4 linked regions of the Homo sapiens genome follow. The protein of the gene in region 2 interacts with the protein of the main gene of each other region in a biochemical or structural test. Each region holds a gene or a part of one and is shown on either strand. Other genes may lie near its edges.

What was found. The genes of interacting proteins can lie anywhere in the genome.
Region 1: the proteins of PML (region 2) and SP1 form a complex in vitro, tested with the Homo sapiens proteins (2 studies listed by BioGRID, with this or other methods).
Region 3: the proteins of PML (region 2) and PIN1 form a complex in vitro, tested with the Homo sapiens proteins (2 studies listed by BioGRID and IntAct).
Region 4: of the proteins of PML (region 2) and UBE2I, one has a biochemical effect on the other in vitro, tested with the Homo sapiens proteins (13 studies listed by BioGRID, with this or other methods).

The regions. Positions count from the first base shown.
Region 1 is NC_000012.12:53,413,346-53,418,030, reverse strand, and holds the end of SP1 (transcription factor Sp1), read right to left. Parts: 3' UTR 1,585-4,685; downstream 1-1,584. UniProt on the Homo sapiens protein: Transcription factor that can activate or repress transcription in response to physiological and pathological stimuli.
Region 2 is NC_000015.10:74,035,450-74,040,748, forward strand, and holds part of PML (protein PML), read left to right. Parts: coding exon of another isoform or gene 1-502; exon of another isoform or gene 503-557; coding exon of another isoform or gene 558-611; exon of another isoform or gene 612-945; intron 946-5,299.
Region 3 is NC_000019.10:9,837,603-9,842,901, forward strand, and holds part of PIN1 (peptidyl-prolyl cis-trans isomerase NIMA-interacting 1), read left to right. Parts: intron 1-409; coding exon of another isoform or gene 410-473; intron 474-833; coding exon 834-1,046; intron 1,047-5,299. UniProt on the Homo sapiens protein: Peptidyl-prolyl cis/trans isomerase (PPIase) that binds to and isomerizes specific phosphorylated Ser/Thr-Pro (pSer/Thr-Pro) motifs.
Region 4 is NC_000016.10:1,318,921-1,324,219, reverse strand, and holds part of UBE2I (SUMO-conjugating enzyme UBC9), read right to left. Parts: intron 4,047-5,299; coding exon 3,937-4,046; intron 3,783-3,936; coding exon 3,703-3,782; coding exon of another isoform or gene 3,561-3,702; exon of another isoform or gene 1-3,560. UniProt on the Homo sapiens protein: Accepts the ubiquitin-like proteins SUMO1, SUMO2, SUMO3, SUMO4 and SUMO1P1/SUMO5 from the UBLE1A-UBLE1B E1 complex and catalyzes their covalent attachment to other proteins with the help of an E3 ligase such as RANBP2, CBX4 and ZNF451.

The sequences.
Region 1 (4,685 bases), on a different chromosome or scaffold from region 2:
GTCCTGGCACGGTGGCTAACGCCTGTAATCCCTGCACTTTGGGAGGCCGAGGCGGGTGGATCAGCTGAGGTCAGTTCAAGATCAGCCTGGCCAACATCGTGAAACCCCGTCTCTATTAAAAATACAAAAATTAGCCGGGCATGGTGGCGCGTGCCTGTAATTCCAGCTACTTGGGAGGCGGAAACAAGAGAATTGCTTGAACCCAGGAGGTGGAGGTTGCAGTGAGCTGAGATCGTGCCACTGCACTCCAGCCTGAGTGACAGAGCAAGACTCCATCCCAAAAAACAAAAACAAAAAAAACAAACAAAAGCAAACCCACAAAGTAGCCTGAGGATTCAATAAAGGAAGAGAAAAATGAGTGTAAACTACTTTCACTAACTTTGGAAATGGAAAAAACTAATCAGTAGCTTGAAGAGGAAGCTGAGGTTTTTTAAAATGGGGGAAGGGGGAATACTTGAACATGTTTTTTTTTTTTTTGAGAGTCTCGCTTCGTTGCCCAGGCAATGTGTAATGGCGTGATCTTGGCTCACTGCAACCTCCGCCTCCCGGTTCAAGCAGTTCTCTTCCCTCAGCCTCCCAAGTAGCTGGGATTACAGGTACCTGCCCCCACGCCCGGCTACGTTTTTGTATTTTTAGTAGAGACAGTGTTTCACCATGTTGGCCAGCCTGGTCTCAAACTCCTGACCTCAAGTGATCCACCCAGCTAAGCCTCCCAAAGTGCTGGGATTACAGGGGTGAGACACCGCGCCCAGCCAGAACATGCTTATAGGCTGACAAAAGATAACAATGACTGTAGCTGGGAAAATCTGAGCAACAAAATAGTAATGGATTATAATCCATGTATAAAATAAATACACATTAATACATACTAATATAAATTGACTAAACAAATGAGGGAGAAGAGACAAACCTTTTTTTTTTTTGAGACGGAGTCTTGCTCTGTCGCCCAGGCTAGAGTGCAGTGGTGAAATCTCGGCTTACTGCAAGCTCCGCCTCCCGGGTTCACGCCATTCTCCAGCCTCAGCTCCCAAGTAGCTGGGACTACAGATGCCCGCCACCACGCCCATCTAATTTTTTGTATTTTTAGTAGACAGTTTCACCGTGTTAGCCAGGATGGTCTCGATCTCCTGACCTCGTGATCCACCCACCTCAGCCTCCCAAAGTGCTGGGATTACAAGCGTGAGCCACCACACCTGGCCACGATGTCAGTTTCTTAATTTTGACAATGTACCATGGTAATATGTTAACAATGAGGGAAACGGGTAAGGATTATATGGAAACTCTGTTCTAGCTTTACAACTTTTCTGTAAATCTAAAATTATTCCAAAATAAAAAAGCATATGAGAAAAAAAATAAAGTTAGTGTTGCCTGTTTGTCTTGGTCCTCCACATTTCCGTGTAGTTGTGGCACATTGATCTGGTCATGAAACCATTTACCCGGGAGTTAAATATAGGGCAATTGCACTAATTAACATGTATGGAGCACAACACAGTGTAGCTGGAAACCTTTGTTAGGTTCAGAGTATGAAGTTACAAACGTACACTCTCACCATTCCCAACCCTCTTCAATACACCAGAGACATGGTTTTTTATTAAAAAACTTTTTAATTGGTTTACAAAGGAGGCTACAGACTACATTGAAACTAATCTTTGTACAAAAGGCCAAAAAAAAAAAAAAAAAAGTCCCAAAACACCAAGAGACAAAAGGTAGGAGGAAAGACAAGAAAGGAAGATACAAAAGGAGCAGGAAGAAACTTACTTAGGGACAAGATTAGCATCATACATACCTAAGAGTGGGGGGTGAGGGGGAAGAACAAGATGAGAGAGCATTTAAAAGCATTTACCCACACAGCCCTGGTGATAATTGGATTGGAATCAAAACAAACACAGCATGAGATTATTAAGAGGTTTTAAAAGGCAACAGTGGTGTGGACTGGTTATTGCCAGTGTTAAGAGAGAAATAAACTTGGGTTTTTAGGCACCAGAGATTGGAGCACCACCCATCCCTTCCAGAGGATGACAGACTTAGGAAGGGGAAGCAGGCCCTGGGGCAGCTGCCACTGGTGTGTGTAGATGTCTCCTCAGGTCAATCTCAGTGTATCTTCCCCGAAGTCTTTGTGCCCTAGACTCTAGGTAAGGGCTATGGGATTTCACTGGGAGAAAGGGATGATCAAAAATATGAAGACCTGCCCTTGTCCACAATGTTCAAGAGCAGTTACCGGGAAACTGGAGCACTGGGTAGACAGAGCCCATATCCCTGGGGAAAAGGCACAGTGTAATTCCTGAAGGCAAGATATGGGAAAGCACACATCCCAGCAGAGGTATCAACAAAATCCTCACTACTTGCAGCCCTAGTCTAATCCCATTTGTTAGGCTTTTTTTTTTTTTTTTTCCCCTGATACTTAGCTAGGACTTAGGGCAGTTGAGAGGCAGATCATCATGCCTCTACTTTCTTAGCAGAGACAAGGAAGACTGGGGCTGTTTGATAATGAGGAAGGGGAAAATGGGACAAAATACTCCTCTTTCAAATGAACACTGTGGAGAAAATCTTTCTGGGTTTGGGGAAGTCAGAGTAAAGACTTAGGGGAGTAATAAAGCCAGAGACCCCCCTTCTTTTCCTTTCCCTGCCTTGGATCTAAGGCAAGTGAGCCAAATTTGGAAGAGGGAGTAGGAATTTAAGCTTAAGGCTGCTTAATGTCTTCCTGGGGGCTGGTGTTTTGGGAAGGCAGACAAAGAGAAACAGGTCAACCTCAAAGCTGGTCTGCTCATCCTCTTAGAAGAGGTCTGGTATCTGTGGAGTAGAGCCAAGAGAGGCACCACAGAGAGCACAGTCTCCCAAACAGAAGTAATAACCGGCTCATATTTTATCAGCAGTTTTCAAAAGCAATGTTTTCCGGGGTTGGAGAAGTGCCATATCTTCCTCCCTTTCCCCAAAGCTACTGCTGCGACCTTTCTTTCATCCTTGTACATAAGTTACTGGCTCTCTTCTAAGGGAGATAAATTCTGAGATTTCACATTTTCCCTCTCAACCCCAATAGGCTACCCAGCTTCAGTGAGGGGGAAGGAGAGCTATGCAAAGGGCCCCTCACTTGAGGCAGCTAGACTGTCCTTATTTCCTTGGTACCTGATCTCCAAAACTCTTGATCTGATCCCAAGGTCCAAAAGGCATCAGGGTACTTACACTGAAAACTTCAAGCAAGTAGCACCAGGGCTCCCCCTAAGCATAACAGGGGCCTGATTAGCACCCCAGAAGAACCCCTCAAAAAGTATATAAATTTATTGCGTCCTAGCAAAGATCTGCAGCTTCCAGTATTCACACAATGTGAAGATATTAACAATACAAAATATATTTTGAAAGTCAAACACCTGTAGTTCATAGTGCTTTTTTAGATTTGTTAAAAAAAATACAATGCTTAGTTTCCTATATAGGATATACAAAAGCAAAAAATATATATGTATATAGTAGAAATAAATCAGCCATAGTAATTTACAGCTTTTGTCTCCAACCCTCCCCTAATCATAATCTTTATCCCACACTTCAGTATATACTTTCTGGGATCAAAGGATCAATTTATTCTGAACCAGGCTGAGAAATATCCATTAAATTGCATTCTGTGTAGCACCCACAGAGTGCCAGTTGGAAATCCCTGAAGGAAGACGGTGTGGGTTGTTACTGTTCTGGGTAAAAAGTGAGACAGTCAAATGACATGTAAATGAATATAAATGGGCAACCTGAAAACCTGAAAGGATGAGGGAATAAGTGTTTTACTATCTCACCACTCTTCTGGGCATCCCCTGCCCTGCAAGTTTTGGTCATCTAAAAAATTTAAAAAACTCATTCAAAAAAATGAAAAAAACTTAGGAAAAAAATTTCAGAATCAATATGCATGTCAGTTAAATTAATTTCTGTTAGCCAAAAGTTCAGGGAAACGGGGTTTTTCTGTAATAAGCTCCTGACTCAAGGAATGTAGGCTCCAAACTTCCTGTGGAAGAGACTGAGTGGCTCACTACTGCTGGGAGACAAAAGAAGCTGCTTCTGTTTTGAGGCCAAACAAGATACTGGATCTGGAGCTTCCTTGGTGTGAAGAGAACAGGGCAAGTGGAAATAATTAGATATAAATTCACTCATGGTAATGCTAATGAATAGGGTTGAGGGTAAACCAGCAGCTTTTCATTCGAGAAAGAAATACCATCAAATTACCTTCTAAAAGCTTATATCCTCAGCATCATTACATTATTTTATATCTGGTAATTTCATACTGGAGAAGATTCCATTCCTTGAAATGCACTAGCAAAATACTGTACATTCCAGTGAGTTATCCTGCCCCTTTCCTCCAAAAGATGCCAAAGTACATGATTACAGACATAAAATAACAGGTTCTGAGTTCTGCCTTTCAGTGAGAATAAAGGGTATGATAGTGGCTGTGCATGGATGACTTGTATCTCAGCGTTAATAGAATTTGATCTGGGGAAAGTTCCTTGCCATAGTTCCTGAGTTGAAAACATAATTACATCTGTGGAGAAAGGACCAAATGGAGTGAACTATTGTTTAGAGTATTAAGTTACTATAGTTCAGATTAAACAACACACTTACCCAAAACTTAATTTGGATGGATTTTATATAAAATATATAATAGAATCATACCATCATCTATTTGTAGCCAAAGTAAAAAGATTTATGAGAAG
Region 2 (5,299 bases):
GAGAGCCATCCGCCTTCGCCATGCCCTCCGCTTGCACCCTCAATTGCATCGGGCCCCTATTCGGACTTGGTCTCCCCATGTGGTCCAAGCCAGCACTCCTGCCATCACAGGGCCCCTCAACCATCCTGCCAATGCCCAGGAACATCCTGCCCAGCTGCAAAGGGGCATCAGCCCACCCCACCGGATACGAGGGGCTGTGCGATCCCGCAGCCGCTCCCTCCGGGGCTCCTCCCATTTATCCCAGTGGCTCAACAACTTTTTTGCCCTCCCCTTCTCCTCCATGGCTTCCCAGCTTGACATGTCTTCCGTGGTGGGGGCAGGGGAAAGCAGAGCCCAGACTCTTGGAGCAGGTGTTCCCCCTGGGGACTCTGTCAGAGGCTCCATGGAGGCCTCTCAAGTCCAAGTGCCTCTGGAAGCCTCTCCAATTACATTCCCACCACCCTGTGCCCCAGAAAGGCCCCCCATCAGCCCAGTCCCAGGCGCCCGTCAAGCAGGCCTCTGAGAGTGCTACCCTTCTCTTGTAACCTTGCAGCCAACACCCCTGCCCGGCCCCTGAGCTGCCTCCTCCAGCCCATGCTCTTACAGGCCCTGCACAGAGTAGCACTCATTAATTCTTGGTTAAGGAATGAATCAACGAATGAATGGCTATGCATGGACCTCTGGGCAGGGAGACCTGGGTCTTCTCTGGCTGAGAGGGGAAGGCTAAGGCATGGCTGAGATTCAAGCCACCATTCCAGGCCTCTTTGCCCAAGAAAGAAACTTCTGTCACCCTTGCACTCTCCTGTATTCTGAGTCCCTGGCCAATAGCACAGCCTTCCATGCCCCGACCCCCACCCCAAGCCTCTCCACTAGGCCTCTGCCAGGATCTAAGCCCATGAGCACAGGGACTGGCTATCCCAAGACCTGGCAGATGTGGCTGCTCAATAAACACTTGTTGAACCATCACCCTTGCGAACCCTTATTCCACGACCATCGCGTTCTCCGATGGATCCAGCTCCTCCCTGCAGGCTGTTCTCTCTTCCCTATGCTGGAACTCAGTTCTCCTCTGGGGATACCATGTCCCCTCTTCCTCCCACACTCATGGGCATCAGAGGTGGGAGGTAGGGTCAAGGCCCCCTGCTTCCTGGACTGTTCCAGCCCCTTCCTGGCCGTCTGGTAAGATCCTCTGTCCCTCTCAGGGTGGGCCCCATGCTCCCCAGCTCATCCCAGACACCCACCTGCCCACCCTCATTGAGGGCAGACGTGAGCATTCACCTCCCAGATTTCTTCTCCCTGCTCAGGTCCTGCCTTCCTCCTGAGTGACTTCTATTTCCACCCACCTGCCCGCCACTCCTTAACCTCTCAGGGGTTGTCACCCCATTCCCCCAGACAGCTGCCTGCCCCGTGGCCGTGCCCTGCACCTTGCCATCACCGAGCACTGTCGGTCCCTCAGCCGGTCCTCTCAGACTCTGACCGCAGCCTCCTGTTCCTTGAGCTCTCAGTCCTACCTTCGCCTCCCTCCAGCCCCGCGCACTCCCCATTTCATCCCATCTTTCATCAGAATTGCAGCTCCCTGCCCAGCAGAAAATCCTGGAAGGACTCAGGAGCTTGTCGCCTCTGTGCTGCCACCTGGAGACCGAGATCTGCAGGAGAAAGGCCTGGGAAAACTATGAGTGGTTGCCTGTGACTGCTAAGGGCTCCTTGGTGCTCCGCCCAGCATGTCCTTTTGCTCTGCAGGGCAGCCCCCGCCTGCCTTTCTTCACTGGGCCCTTGTCCCAGCCTCACCCTCAGCTGATGGCGGCACCTTCTGCTCCAGGGAGAAAACAGGAGCTCTCCAATGGCATAGGGACAGTTGACATCTTGCTATTTACAGATCCCCATCGCACCCCTTCCCTGCCCTCGTTAGGGTGGAAGGGATGTCCACCTGCCTCCAGGACTCACCCTGTGTCCTGGCCCCAGCCCTTGACCCCCTGGGAGCCTCACTCCTCCTCCTCATCTCTCTTGCATCTTCTAATGTATCCACTGCCTTCTGAACTAAACACCCTGAATGAGGTCTTTCTCATCTCAGAAAACTCCACCCACTTCTCTCTCCAGCTGTCGGCTCCCCTTCCTCTGCTCTCCTTGTTTACACTTCAGCCCCCTCCTTGCCCCTTCTTCACCCCACCTCCTGCGCTTCCCCGCCAGTACCAGGGTGGCCTCTGTGCCTCTAGGTGCAGTGTCGCGTTTAGTCGTTATTATTCTTGACCGGCGCTGGGCCCGGTCTTTCCTGGAAAGATCGCCTGCTCGGATGCAGCTCTGGGCACTCCTCCCTCTCCTCTGCAGGCTCTGTTTTTTCTTGGTTGTGGTGCTCCTGCAGGTTTGCTGCTGGGCCCTTTCCTCTTTTCAGTCTGTGTATTCTCCCAGGTGCTCTCAGCCACGCCCCTGACTTCAGTTACTGCCCAGGGGTAGCTGATACCCAACACTCGCACCTGCCTGCCAGACCAGCATGGCCAGTGACCTTCCAACAGCTCCGCATGGATGCCCATAGGTACCTCAAACTCAGCACCTTCTCCTCCCGTCTCACTGGCTCGCCCCACTCTCTGCCCGGTTGCACAAGCCAAGACCCCATAGCCACCCAGGGCACCCCCCTTTTGATTATTCCTCACATCCAACCAGTTATTGAGTCTTGTCTTTCTAGGGTGTAAATTCCTCTGAAATCTGGGCACTTCTTTCCATCCCATAATCTTGGTAAAATTAAAGCTACCACTGACCCTGGGTAGAGGCAGAAGCCTGGGAAGGAAAGGTGGAGAACAGGTTTGGAGTGCCAACAGTGTCCCCAGATGTCATGGAGAATCAAGTAGAGGGACCCCAGCAATATTGGGGGTGGGGCGGGGAGTATGTAATGCTCAGCTATCAGCAAGGAGTCATTAGGGGCTATACAGTGAATTAAGGGAGGGGGTAAAAGCACATTTCAGGTGATGATGAATTAAATACCTAGGAGCTCACATTAGAGAGCAGGCCTAGAGACGTGGGGAGAGAGCCAGAGGACCGCTGCTTTTGTGTATGTAGCTTTAAGACACAGGTTTTAAAAATTGTTATAGGAGTCCCAAACTTTAGAAAATATATATTTTAAAACCCCAACAAATTAGGTCCCCCCTATGCATTTCTCACCCAACTTCTGGGCCCTTTCCAGACCCCTGGTGCCCCCAGAGTACACCCAGCACCACCACTGCAAATTCCTACTCCCCAGCTTGGAGGGGGTGGGGTGATATTCCCAAGGTGATCCCGGCTCCCACCTAACCCATCCTCCCCAGCTCTGCAGCTTATATCCAGCTTTGCAGTGAGGAAAGTTGCAGAATACTGGTCTGCTACATTACTACTTTCCAAGTGTATCAGGGCATTTAGGAACCCCTCCCTTGAGCTTCACCTGTGTCCTAGGGATTCAGTGAGAGACTGTTTGTGCAAGAAGGAGCGAGAGGCAGCAGGGCATAGTCATGGGGTGGAGCAGTGAGTCCCCCAGGCCTGGTTGTGGAGTACCTGGGGTGAGGACTTTGCTTAAAAACTGCCAGAGTGGGTCAGCAGTGCGCCTGCCCTGGGGCCCCTGCTTTAGGATCCAAAGTGGAAAAGATAGGTGTTTTCACCCACTCTTGTGACAGATTACTGGCTCCGGTGCCTTGGTGGCAGCAGCAACAGGAGGGGGCCAAGGTGAGGGGGCAGCCTGTGGCAGAAGTGGCAGTGGTGACGGCGGAGGAAGGGAGGCCTGTGGGGAATGGCTGATCCAGGGGAGGGGCCGTGGCACTGGTGAGTGTGCATCTGAGAAAATGAAACGGAGGTGCTGGCCAAGAGGCTGGAGCTAGGCAGAAGGGCAGCAGAGGCCACAGGCTGGCCGAGTTTATGGTCCAGTTCACTCATAACATGTGCAGTATTCCTGGGGTCTTTGAGGCTTTGCAAGAGCTGGGGTTTTGTGTCTGCAGAAAGATAGCAATGCATGTGTCTTGCCAAACTGATCCCAGCTGTAGCTGATGCTTAAGTGCTCAGAAAGTTCTTCAGGAGCTTGAGGGCTCTTGATAAGCATGAATGTCAGATGTTCTGTATCTTCCAGAGGCTGGATGCTGACTATCAGAGTTTGGCTTGTGTTTGGCTGATGAGCAAACCTGGAATGAATCAGTGATAAGGACAATTGTTCTCAAGCTGGCTGTACACTGGGGAGTTTTCCCAACTACAGATTCCTAGGTCCTACGCCCTGAGATTCTAATCGAATCAGTCTTGGGTGCAGCCTGGGCCTCAGTTTTTTCTTAAAGCTATGAATGCCTAACCAAAGTCAAGAACCACTGAATCGGGGGATTCATTGCATGTCTGTGGTAGAGGAATGCTGCTCATTTGTTTATAGATGTGGCAGTCTTGAATGCAGGTGACATTTTCATACCAGGGTGTAATACCGCAGAGGAGGGGAGAGGCTGGATCTTCCCTGATGTACCTCCTGGACTTTTGGAGTGTGATTACAATGCCAATCCAGCCACTTCCTCTGAGCATGCTTGGGACGACTGTTAGACCTGCTGTGTTGAGTTAGAATGCACTTGACCTGCTCAGGCCGTGAAATCTATGAGGAAGGGGAGTGAGATGGATGTAGCTCATGAGCCAGATTGCAGGTGTATCCAAGTTGCATGTATATCCTGAAAAAATCCTGGCTCTCACGAGGCTCAGCCTGAACACAGTTTTGCATTCAAAGAAACAATGTCCATTAACCAAGTATAATAAAGAAATAAATCCCAGTATTTACTTGCATCTTTTGAAAGAACATTAAAGGGAATCCAGCTCATAACCCCAGCAGCACTTCTTCAGTCCTTCTTCCCCTTTTCTTTGGCGCCTGGCATCTCTCACTGCATAGCAAAGCTTTCCCCCTTGATTCCCGGTCCTCACACGCAGGCTCAAGGCTCTGTTTCCCATCTTCTTTCTTCTGTCCCCCTTCCTTTTCTCTTCCAAGCAAATCTAAGTCTTTTCCAGTGACTGTCCCTCTCTATGCTCCCCCGACACCCAGTTATCCTAATTTGCGGAATAAGGCCAAGGTGTGGGGCCTGGGGGCAGAATGGGAGAGTCTCCCCTAGTGAGCAGGGAGGGGAGTATGTTCTGCACCAGGCCACTATGTCTGATGGCCCTGCTGGCAAACCTGAGTCTTTCAGAAAGTCTTGTTTAAATGCGTCAGCACTCCCCAGCTGTGATGCTGGAGTTTAAGGCGGAGCAGGGGAGAATTCTGGGTTTACAGCTGGCTGGAGTTCCAGTGAGACCAGCTCCATGGGTGGCCATACTTTATGGAAGTCCCCAAGGGCAAGAGGAATTTTGG
Region 3 (5,299 bases), on a different chromosome or scaffold from region 2:
AGACATACACCACAACGCCCGGCTAATGTTGGTTTGTTTGTTTGTTTGTGACGGAGTTTTGCTCTTGTTGCCCAGGCTGGAGTGCAGTGGCACAATCTCAGCTCACTGCAACCTCCATCTCCCGGGTTCAAGCGATTCTCCTGCTTCAGCCTCCCCAGTAGCTGGGATTACAGGTGCCTGCCACCATGCCGGGCTAATTTTTTATATTTTTAGTAGAGATGGGGTTTCACTGTGTTGGCCAGGCTGGTCTTGAACTCCTGACCTCAGGTGATCCACCCCACCTTGGCCTCCCAAAGTGCTGGGATTACAGGTGAGAGCCACCGTGCTTAGCCCTTTTAAAAATGTTTAAAAATTATTATTTAGTCCTTTCAATGACCCTAAGGTAGGAACTGTTATCTCCATTTTGCAGGTGAGAACACCAAGGCCCAGGGAAGATATATCACATTTGAACCCAGATTCAGATTTGAATCCAGGTGGCCTGGCTGCTGAGTGCATGGTTTGAGTCACTCCCTGTCCCCCAGCTTCCTCTGTTCCATCACTCTGGGTTATTTTCCTCCTTGAAGTTATCAGGGATTGATACTATCCTGTGTTTCATTTGCTTGTTTAGCACCTGTCTGCTCTCACCTAGAATGTTAGCTCTCTAAGGGCAGGGACTGTATCCTGCCACATTGGCCCACGTCTGGAGAGCCTGTGGCACATGGTGGATACACCATGGATTTGTTGAATGAAGGCGCCCCCTGCAAGCCAGGCCCTCACCCTGGCTTCTGGCTGTGGGCCCAGGGGTGTCCTGGGAGCACAACCCTAGCTGAATTCCTGCCTGCCCTCCCCTCCAGGCCGAGTGTACTACTTCAACCACATCACTAACGCCAGCCAGTGGGAGCGGCCCAGCGGCAACAGCAGCAGTGGTGGCAAAAACGGGCAGGGGGAGCCTGCCAGGGTCCGCTGCTCGCACCTGCTGGTGAAGCACAGCCAGTCACGGCGGCCCTCGTCCTGGCGGCAGGAGAAGATCACCCGGACCAAGGAGGAGGCCCTGGAGCTGATCAACGGTGAGCAGGGCGAGGGCAGGGGCTTGGGAGGGGGTCTTCTCCCAGGTGAGCCTTTGTAGAAGTCACATCAGACCCTTCACCCCAGCTTGCTCAGCTGCCAGGCGTGGTGTTGGCCAACACAAAAACGCCAGTGCATGACCTGACCCTGACCTTCACAGCAGCCATTCTCTTTCTTTTCCATCTGGCATTTGAGGGTGAGCCAGGTAGGGGCAGAGGACCCAGCCTGGGGGCTGGCAGACATGGGTTCAGGTAGTAGCTGTGCCTCTGTGAACTCTGTGACCTTTGGGAGGGGACTCGTGTCACCTCCCCTAGACTCAGCTTTCTCTGTAAAATGGGCATCCTCTAAGGACCATTGTGAAGGTTCAAGGGAATAAGGCAATGGATTTTGCACAGTAGGCCCTCAGTCTGTGGGAAGTGTTGTCAATAGTAATATCATCCACTAGGGGCCTGAGTCATAAACATAGGTGGATCCAGAGAGAGCAGTCAGGAAGGTAGTGAGTGCATGCAGGGTGCGGTGGCTCACGCCTGTAATCCCAGCACTTTGGGAGGCCTTGGAGGGCAGATCACCTGAGGTCAGGAGTTCAAGATTAGCCTGGGCAGTATGGTGAAACTCCATCTCTACTAAAAATACAAAGATTAGCCAGATGTGTTGACGCATGCCTGTAATCCCAGCTACTCGGGAGGCTGAGGCAGGGAGGCAGAGGTTGCAGTGAGCCGAGATCGCACCACTCCACTCCAGCCTGGGCAGCAAAGTGAGGCACCATCTCAAAAAAAAAAAAAAAAAAGAGGTAGTGAGTGCCAGTAGATAGTGAGTTAATTCTGACCTAAGGGAGGAAGCTATTCCCTGCTCTGTTCTGTGTTTCCTCTGCAGTCTGGCACCAAGGTGGCAAACTTTAAAGGCCAGATGGTAAATATTTTAGGTTTTGTGGGCCATGCAGTCTCTATCAGCTCTGCTTTGTAACTGGATAGCACTCATAACTAATATGTAAGCAAGCACATGGTCATGGCTGTGTGCCAAGAAAACTTTACTATTTACAAAATCTGGGAGGATTTGGCCTGCAGGCCATCATTTGCAGAGCCCTGTCTAAAGCTGTCCAGTTTGGCTGCCACTCCCACCCTGTGCGGGAGGATCACTTGAGCCCAGGAGTTTGAGACCAGCTTGGGCAACATAGCAAAACCCCGTCTCTAAAAAAATAAAAAAATTAGCTGGACATGGTGGTGCACGCCTGTAGTGTCAGCTACTTAGAAGACTGAGGTGGGAGGATCCTTTGAGCCCAGGAGGCAGAGGTTGTAATGAGCCGAGATCACACTACCGCACTCCAGCCTGGGTGACAGAGCAAGACCCTGTCTCAAAAATAAATAAGATAATATCAAAAATTGGTTTCTCAATTGCACTGGTCATACTTTAGCTGGTGGCTGCCATCTTTGACAGCGGGAATATAAAACATTTACATTCTTGGCCGGGCGCGGTGGCTCACGTCTGTAATTCCAGCACTTTGGGAGGCCAAGGTGGGTGGATCACGAAGTCAGGAGATCGAGACCATCCTGGCTAACACGGTGAAACCCTGTCTTTACTGAAAATCCAAAAAAATTAGTCTGGCATGGTGGCGGGCACCTGTAGTCCCAGCTACTCGGGAGATAGGCAGGAGAATGGCATGAACCCGGGAGGTGGAGCTTGCAGTGAGCTGAGATCGTGCCACTGCACTCCAGCCTCGGCAACAGAGCGAGACTCCGTCTCAAAAAAACAAAAACAAAAACAAAAAAAAACACTTTTCCATTCTTGCAGTAAGTTGTGTCTGATGCCTTTCTCAGAGTCCCCAAACCTGGGCTGTCCCTACTCCAAACAACCCATCTCTCAACCATGCCCAGACAGCCTGGGTTGCTATGCAGCTCTGCCACGTCCTGGCTATGTGCTCTTGAGCAAGTTACTTAACATCTCTGGGCTTCAATCTTTTTCTCCTTCTTCTTTTGAGACAGGGTCTTGCTCTGTCACCCAGGCTGGAGTGCAGTGTTCATAGCTCACTGCAGCCTCAACCTCCTTGGGATCAGGTGATCCTCCCACCTCAGCCTCCCAAGTAGCTGGGACTGCAGGCTCATAACACCACACCTGGCTGATTTTTGTATTTTTAGTAGAGACAGGACTTCACCATGTTGCCTAGGATGGTCTCAAACTCCTGGCCTCAAGTGATCCTTCCACCTCAGCCTCCCGAAGTGTTGGGATGACAAGCATGAACCACCGCCCCCAGCTGTCAGTCTTTTTCATTTATAAAATTAGTATTAGAATAATAAGACCCACTTCACAGGGTAGTTGTGAGGACTCCTGGCTAATACAGTAAAGCGGGAGTAACAGCTCCTGGCATCGGTAAATGTTCTGTCATTGTTAGTGGTCACTGTCATTGCTGTTGTTGGTTGTGGTAGCACAGGGCCCAGCACAGAGTGTACACTCGGTCAGTATTGGCTGTTGTTTTACTCTCTCATCACTTGGTCCAGTTGGCCTGTAGGATGTTATTACATATGCACACCCCCAACATGGCATCTAGGACAGTAAGTGCCACCCGTTAGTCTTATATGTAAGCATGGCAGAGAGAAGCCGAGTTCTTGCACAGAATCTTGAAGGCTGATTGAAGAGCCAGCCTCCTGACCTCTGAGGGCAGGGACTGGATCTCTCTCTTTCCCCTGTATTCCCATCCTGCCACACAAAGCCTGGCCCAGAGTCAGCCCTCACAGCCTTGTTTCATGAGCCAGTAGGAAGCAAGAAGGATTCCTGGCACAGGACGGGGCAGAAGTAAAGGCCTAGGACTAGGATGTAGCCAGAACTCTGGGGAAGGCTTTGCAGGGAGCTAGGGGGTGATGAGACCCTTCACGGGCAGGTCCCAGCCAGGTTGAGGAGGGTCCTTGTCAGGTGAGGAGGTTTGGTTCTTTCCTGGAGGCAGCAGGACATATGTGGCCATGTGGGACCAGGAGAGGAACCCACAGTGCTCTGCTTTCAGCAGAGATCTGTGAAGCTAGAATGTCAAGGGCCAGGGAAGTGGAAGGCCCAGAACCTTCAGGGGTTCTGGTTGCCCCAGAGCAAGAAGAAGAAGTGGAGGGAGAAGCCAGGAGAGAATTGCAAGATGACCCTTCAGGTCCTCCCAGCTCTAGTGGTCTCTGTTCTGAGGCTTCCGGACCCTATAAGAGTGAGCAGGAGGGTGCAGGCATTTGGGGATGGAGCGGCATGAAGTGGGCTCCTGGGGGTCAGCAGAGCAGCCAGGCGCAGGACAGAGCTGCTCCAAGCAATCCTGATGAGAGCTGGCAGAAGGCTGAGGTCGGTGGGGATAGTGAGGAGGGCATGGGTCTGGGTGTGGTGGGCGAGGGTGTCTCGCCCATCTCTGGGTTGGACAGGTGCACCTGGTAAGTAGCCAGGCCCTGAGGCGTCACCGTAGGTACCTGCAGATTCTGGAATGTCAGCAGGAGCCTTGCCTGCCCACCTGGTGGAAGCTGTGGGAGGAATTGGAGCAAGAGGCGGTGTGACTTGAACTTGGGGGCTGGAAGTGGAAGAAGAAGTGAGAGGGAGCAGACCCGAGAGAGATTCAGGAGGCAGGATAGAGAGGACTGGGTGATGGATTAGGTGGGCAAGGGTGGGATGTCTGGGGGAGGGTCAGGGCAGAACAGCGTGGCCCACCCTGGGCTCGTACAGGGCTGGATTTCAGTGCCAGCTGTGTGGTCTTCATTTCCTGAGCCTCAGTTGCCTCATCTGTAGAATGGGGAGAGGGTGGCTATGAGGATCCAGGAGCTATGGGCTCAGTGGCTGGCGTGCTCTGCACGGTGGAGCCTCAGCCCCAGTCATTGGGGTGTGGACGATGGGGGAGCTGAGGTCAAGTCAAGGCCTCTGCTCACGGGCAGCCCCTGCTGCCACCCCACAGCCCGTAGAAAGAGTTCCGGATAGGACCACAGGAGGCCTGGTGGGCTCAGCACACAGATGATGACCTTGGCACACGACCTCCCTCTCCTGGTATCCTCCTGCCTGAGACGGTGCTGGGGCAGATCTCCTCAGAGGTCGATAGGAGGATGCAGTGAGGTGGCCCCGGCCGAGGTACACTCGGTAACAGATCATCATGTGCAGTGTCGGCGCAGGCATTGGGCACCTGGGCCTCATTTTCTCTTCCATGAAGTGGATGTTCTCCCCTCGAGGGTTCATGCCGGGTGATCAGGAGACCATGATTTGGGCAGCTCACTCCCCAGCTGGCAGCCGGGCTAAATCTCATCAGTGCCCA
Region 4 (5,299 bases), on a different chromosome or scaffold from region 2:
TGAGGCTCTCAGCCGCAGGGGCAAAGGTGTGGGAAGGCAGGCCTGGTTGAGAAGGCGTTGTGCCCGAGCTGGGCAGTGCAGGGGCATCAGCGAACAGGTCTGGAGCTGGGTAGAGTGAGGCTCAGCCTGCAAGCAGCTGCCCAGGAGAGTGGCATGGCACACACTGCCCGGGCAAAACAGGTGGGCGGGAGGGCGGCCGAGGCTGCACCTAGGGGCTGATGGGTCACAGGGTGCAGTGTGACCCTGAGGATGGGGGAACACCATGACATTTATGGAGGTGGCTCCTGGGGTCGCAGTCCTGCCAGTCTCGCCAGGATTGGACCTGGTCTGAGACACTGAGCCTCACTCTGCATGGTGGAACAGCCCAGGACGGCAGCAGCGCCGGTGCCACCCCCACCCACGCCAAGGGCCTGGACCGCAGCCCAGACCCCAGCGCCCTCCTTGGGCCACCAGCCGGCCCCAGGGCAGAGCAGCTCAGCTGGGTGGGCGTGGAAGGAACCAGAGGCGGTGGCTACACGTCCCAGCTCTTCCTTGACCAAGCAGAGGCCCCGAGAAAAGGCACCTGCCAGGGCAGGAACACGGTCCAAGGCCTCCAGGAAACCCAGGAAAAACGATCTGAAACCCGCACACATGCTTCACAAAGGGTGCTTTTCAAGCGGATGTGTGTAGGAGAAAGAACGTTTGTTTACGTGCACGCAAGTGTACAGTGCAGCCCAGCAGGCACCAAGCCCAGGAGACGCTGGGGAGAGTCACACGGGGCGGGGGACTGCAACCCTGCCCAGCCCACGCCGCAGATGGGAGCCACAGCCCAGCTCTGGAGATGGTCGGCAAATGGGGTGCAGGCCAGACAGAGCTCACGCCCACACCATGCTGGGGATGGCAGACCATCTAAGGGCTAGGCAGGAAAACATTTGCCTTTTGTTTTGTTTTTTTGAGACAGAGTCTGGCTCTGTTGCCCAGGCTGGAGTGCAGTGGCGTGATCTCGGCTCACTGTAAGCTCCGCCTCCCAGGTTCAAGCCATTCTCCTGCCTCAGCCTCCCGAGTAGCTGGGGTTACAGGTGTGCGCCACCACGCCCGGCTAATTTTTTTTATTTTTACTAGAGATGGGGTTTCACCGTGTTAGCCAGGATGGTCTCAATCTCCTGACCTCGTGATCTGCCCACCTTGGCCTCCCAAAGTGCTGGGATTACAGGCGTGAGCCACCGCGCCCGGCATGCTTTTTTTTTTTTTTTTGAGACAGGGTCTCACTTTGTCACCCAGGCTGCAATCTTGGCTCACTGCAGCATCAACCACCTGGGCTCAAGCAGTCCTCCCACCTCAGCCTCCCAAATAGCTGGGACTACAGGCATGCACCATCATCCCCGGCTTAATTTTTTTTTTTTTTTTTTTTTTAAAGAGAGCAGGTCTTGCCATGTGGCCCAGGCTGGTCTCCAACTCCTGGGCTCAGGTAACGTCCCACAGTGGCCTTGCAAAGTGCTGGGATTACAGGCATGAGCCACCACCCCTGGCAAATTTTTTAATTTTTTGTAGAGATAGGGTCTCGCTATGTTGCCCAGTCTAGTCATGAACTCCTGAGTTCAAGCAATCAGCCCACCTTGGCCTCCCAAAGTGTTGAGATTACAGGTGTTGGGCCACCACACTTGGCCTAGAAATCATTTTCCAGGCACGGTGGCTCATGCCTATAATCCCGGCACTTTGGGAGGCGAGGCGGGTGGATCACCTGAGGTCAGAAGTTCGAGACCAGCCTGGCCAACGTGGTGAAACACTGTCTTTACTAAAAATACAAAAATTAGTCAGGTGTGGTGGTGGGTGCCTGTAATCCCAGCTACTTGGGAGGCTGAGGCAGGAGAATCACTTGAACCCAGGAGGCAGAGGTTGTAGTGAGCTGAGATCACACCACTGCACTCCAGCCTGGGCGACAGAGTGAGACTCTGTTTAAAAAAAAAAAAAAAAAAAAAAAAGAAAACATTTTCTGCCTCAAGGGCCATGTGGACACCCACGAGCACTGTGGCTTCCTGTCCAAGGGAATGCATTTCACGGACTCCTAGGGCACAGCAGGCCAGCACACAAACCCAGGTCACGCCACGTCCCACGAGCCACTTCCAGCAATGGCTTGGCTGACTGAGCGGCTATGAGTTTTTTTTTTTTTTTGAGACAGGGTCTCGCTTTGTCAAGCAGGCTGGATTGCGGTGCTGCAATCTCAACTCACTGCGCATCAACCTCCTGGGCTCAAGCAGTCCTCCCACCTCAGCCTCCCAAATAGCTGGGACTACAGGTGTGCACCACCATGCAGGGGAGCCAGGCTGAGCCTGGGGTGGCTGCTGTGATACTTGCTCCCTGCCTGGGGCCTCTGTGCCACCCTCGGCCACCAGGGAGGGCACCTTGCAGACACCTGGGCTGGGCCCGCATCCAGGGAGAAACACATCTCTCCAAAACCACGTGCTTTTTTTTTTTTTGAGACAGCATTCCTCCGTCGCCAGGCTGGAGAGCAGTGGCAGGATCTCGGCTCACTGCAACTTCCGCCTCCCGGGTTCAAGTGATTCTCCTGTCTCAGCCTCCCAGGTAGCTGGGATTAGAGGCACCCACCACTACGCCCAACTAATTTTTTGTATTTTTAGTAGGGACGAGGGTTTCGCCATGTTGGCCAGGCTGGTCTCGAACTCCTGACCGCATGATTCACCCACCTCGGCCTCCCAAAGTGCTGGGATTACAAGCGTGAGCCACTGCGCCCGGCCGAAACCAGGTGCTTTTCCTCACGACCTGTGCAGGCCGGGCCTAAGGCAACCGGGACCCCTCAGCCTCCCCCCTCCTGACCAGGAGATGCACCCTGGAGGGAGAGGGCCTCTGATGCCCACAGTGGCAGGGATGTGTGGGGTGGCTGCAGGTGAGCCTTCTGGGTCCCTGGCCATTGGGGGCCCTGAGACCCCCTCAGAGGTGTGGGGACCCGTGGTGAGATGGGGCTGGGTTTCTCAACGCTGCAGGCGGAGCAGTGGGGGGTCGGAGGCCCCAACCCACCTTCTTATGGACCTGCCCAGAACAGCTGCAGAGGGAACAGGACAGGCGGGCGCATGGCCTCTGCTCAGGGCAGGGTCCTCCCTGCTTTCCCCAGCACTGTTTGGCTGTCGTCTGCATCCTAACTCACACCAGGCCCTCCTCGGTGCAGACAGGACCCCAGGCCCACGGGGACCCTTCTAGCCACAGCAGCACCTCACAGGGACAGGGTGGAAGCCCAGGGTCCGTGTGACAGCATCACGTCACTGAGCCCTGCTGGGCTGGGCCCCCCCACAGAAGGAACCAAGTTGTAGAGGGGATGGGGACAAGCAGCAAGGGCGGCGCGGGAGGCTGGGGTCCATGGGAGGCTGAGCCGGTGGAGAGGCCTCTCAGCATGGCCTCCTCTGGCACCCACGCCCAGGGTCCTTCCCCTCCTAGCTGGCCACAACTCACTGGGGCAGTGGCCCAAGACAGCCCGTCACCTGGCCTGCTCCCTCCCCGGGACACGGCTCCGGCGCCATCCATGCCCACCGCAGACGGTGTGCAACGGTGCCTGCTGCCCACAGGGTTTATGCCCCCCGACCTTCCCCACAGAGGCGTGGACCCTGGCTGTCCGTAGGGTGAGCCTGTGTCCTCCACTCCCGTCCTGCCAGGCGGCCTTGGCTGGGACGGGGAGGAGCTGCCACCAGCGGGGCCAGGGCTGCTACTAACCAGTAAATCGTGTAGGCCTCTGCTTGAGCTGGGTCTTGGATATTTGGTTCATTTAGAAGTTCCTGTATTCCTAATAGGATCTGTGCCAGAGACAAAAACACAAGACGGGTGTGAGCAGTTTGAAAGGGAGACACCGTGAGACTCGGCCTCAGCCACAGAGAATGACCACAGACCCACGTGTCCGGAGGGGAGACTAAGGCAGCCCTGCCGGTGCCAGAGGCGGAGGCCCCGTACCTGTTTGATTGTGATGGCTGGCCTCCAGTCCTTGTCCTCCTCTAAGATGGACAGGCACACTGTCCCCGAAGGGTACACATTCGGGTGAAATAATGGTGGTTCGAATTTACCTGGAGGAAGAGGAAGAAAGGAAGCACTTTTTGGAGGCAGGCACTGTCCCAGAGTCACGTCCTTCCCCACATCACCCTCCTCCCAACACTGGGGCCCCGGGTTGGTAGCCAGGTTATTTGGCCAAAAACTTTTCAAAAAAATTAAATTGTGGCCATGAGGAGACTAAAGGAAGACATATCCACCTTTGCACACAGGGAACAGAGCCTTGGGGACACGGCCGCAGCCGAGACGAAGCTGTGTCTCTCCCAGGACAGAACTCCCAGCACAGCCAGGCAGTCTGGGAACACAGGCCCCAGGGTGGCCACTTAACCTGTGGCCCCCACATCCTTTCCAGCTGGGCCAGACTCAGGGGAGATGGGAGGAGCTGCAGGAGACGTCCAGGGACATAGCCAACGCCCTTCCAGAGTCGGCTGTTCCGACGCAGACCCTCTGCTTCCAGGATATACGGGCTTTTAGGACCCTGTGTTATTTCTTTACAAAAAAGCAGAAAAGTTTGCCACCATTAGCCCCACCAGGGACCATCACAGTTGATATTCTAGGCTATTTCCCATCTTTTACCTGGGCATCCTCCCTCTTCTCTCTCAATGCTACGGAAGGACACACAGTGCGGCATGTCTAGTGCAGCCGGAGGAATTACCAGAAAGCCAACGCGCCACGAACACCTACAGCTTCCCCGAACACTCGCTCCTACCGACCACTGCATCTGCCCCGTAATCCCAACTGCAACATCCGCAGGCAGCTTCCTGGACTTCAGGTACCATGGAGATGCACAGGGCACACTCCCTGGGGAACGCGAAGACACCACCGCAGACCGTCCCACACCGCGACCATCCCACACCGCAGGAGCACACGGGCGACACCAGCAGCTGCGTGGCTGTCCTGAGTGCGAACACGCGTGAGCGCGCTGCTGTGGAATGTGGGGTGACGGTGTTGGCCCTCAAGCCGTGCTGCTTCCAGGCTGCTCACGCAGGCTGCGTCGCTGGCGGATTCCAGCCACCGGGTGAGGTGCACGGCAGCCACTCCGTGGTGCTACGCTGCGCCTGCTGGTGACCGCTGAGCGCCCCTTTCGGCCCAGGCTGCTTCCTGGCGACTGCTTCGCAGAAGTTCCTCAAGCGATACGTCTTACAGGGCTCTTCTGCTTGGGGCTTGACTTTTTGCTTTTTTAATTTTTTGAGATGGAGTTTCACTGTGGTGCCCAGGCTGGATCTCGGCTCACTGCAGCCTTCACCTCCCGGGCTCAAGTGATTCTCCC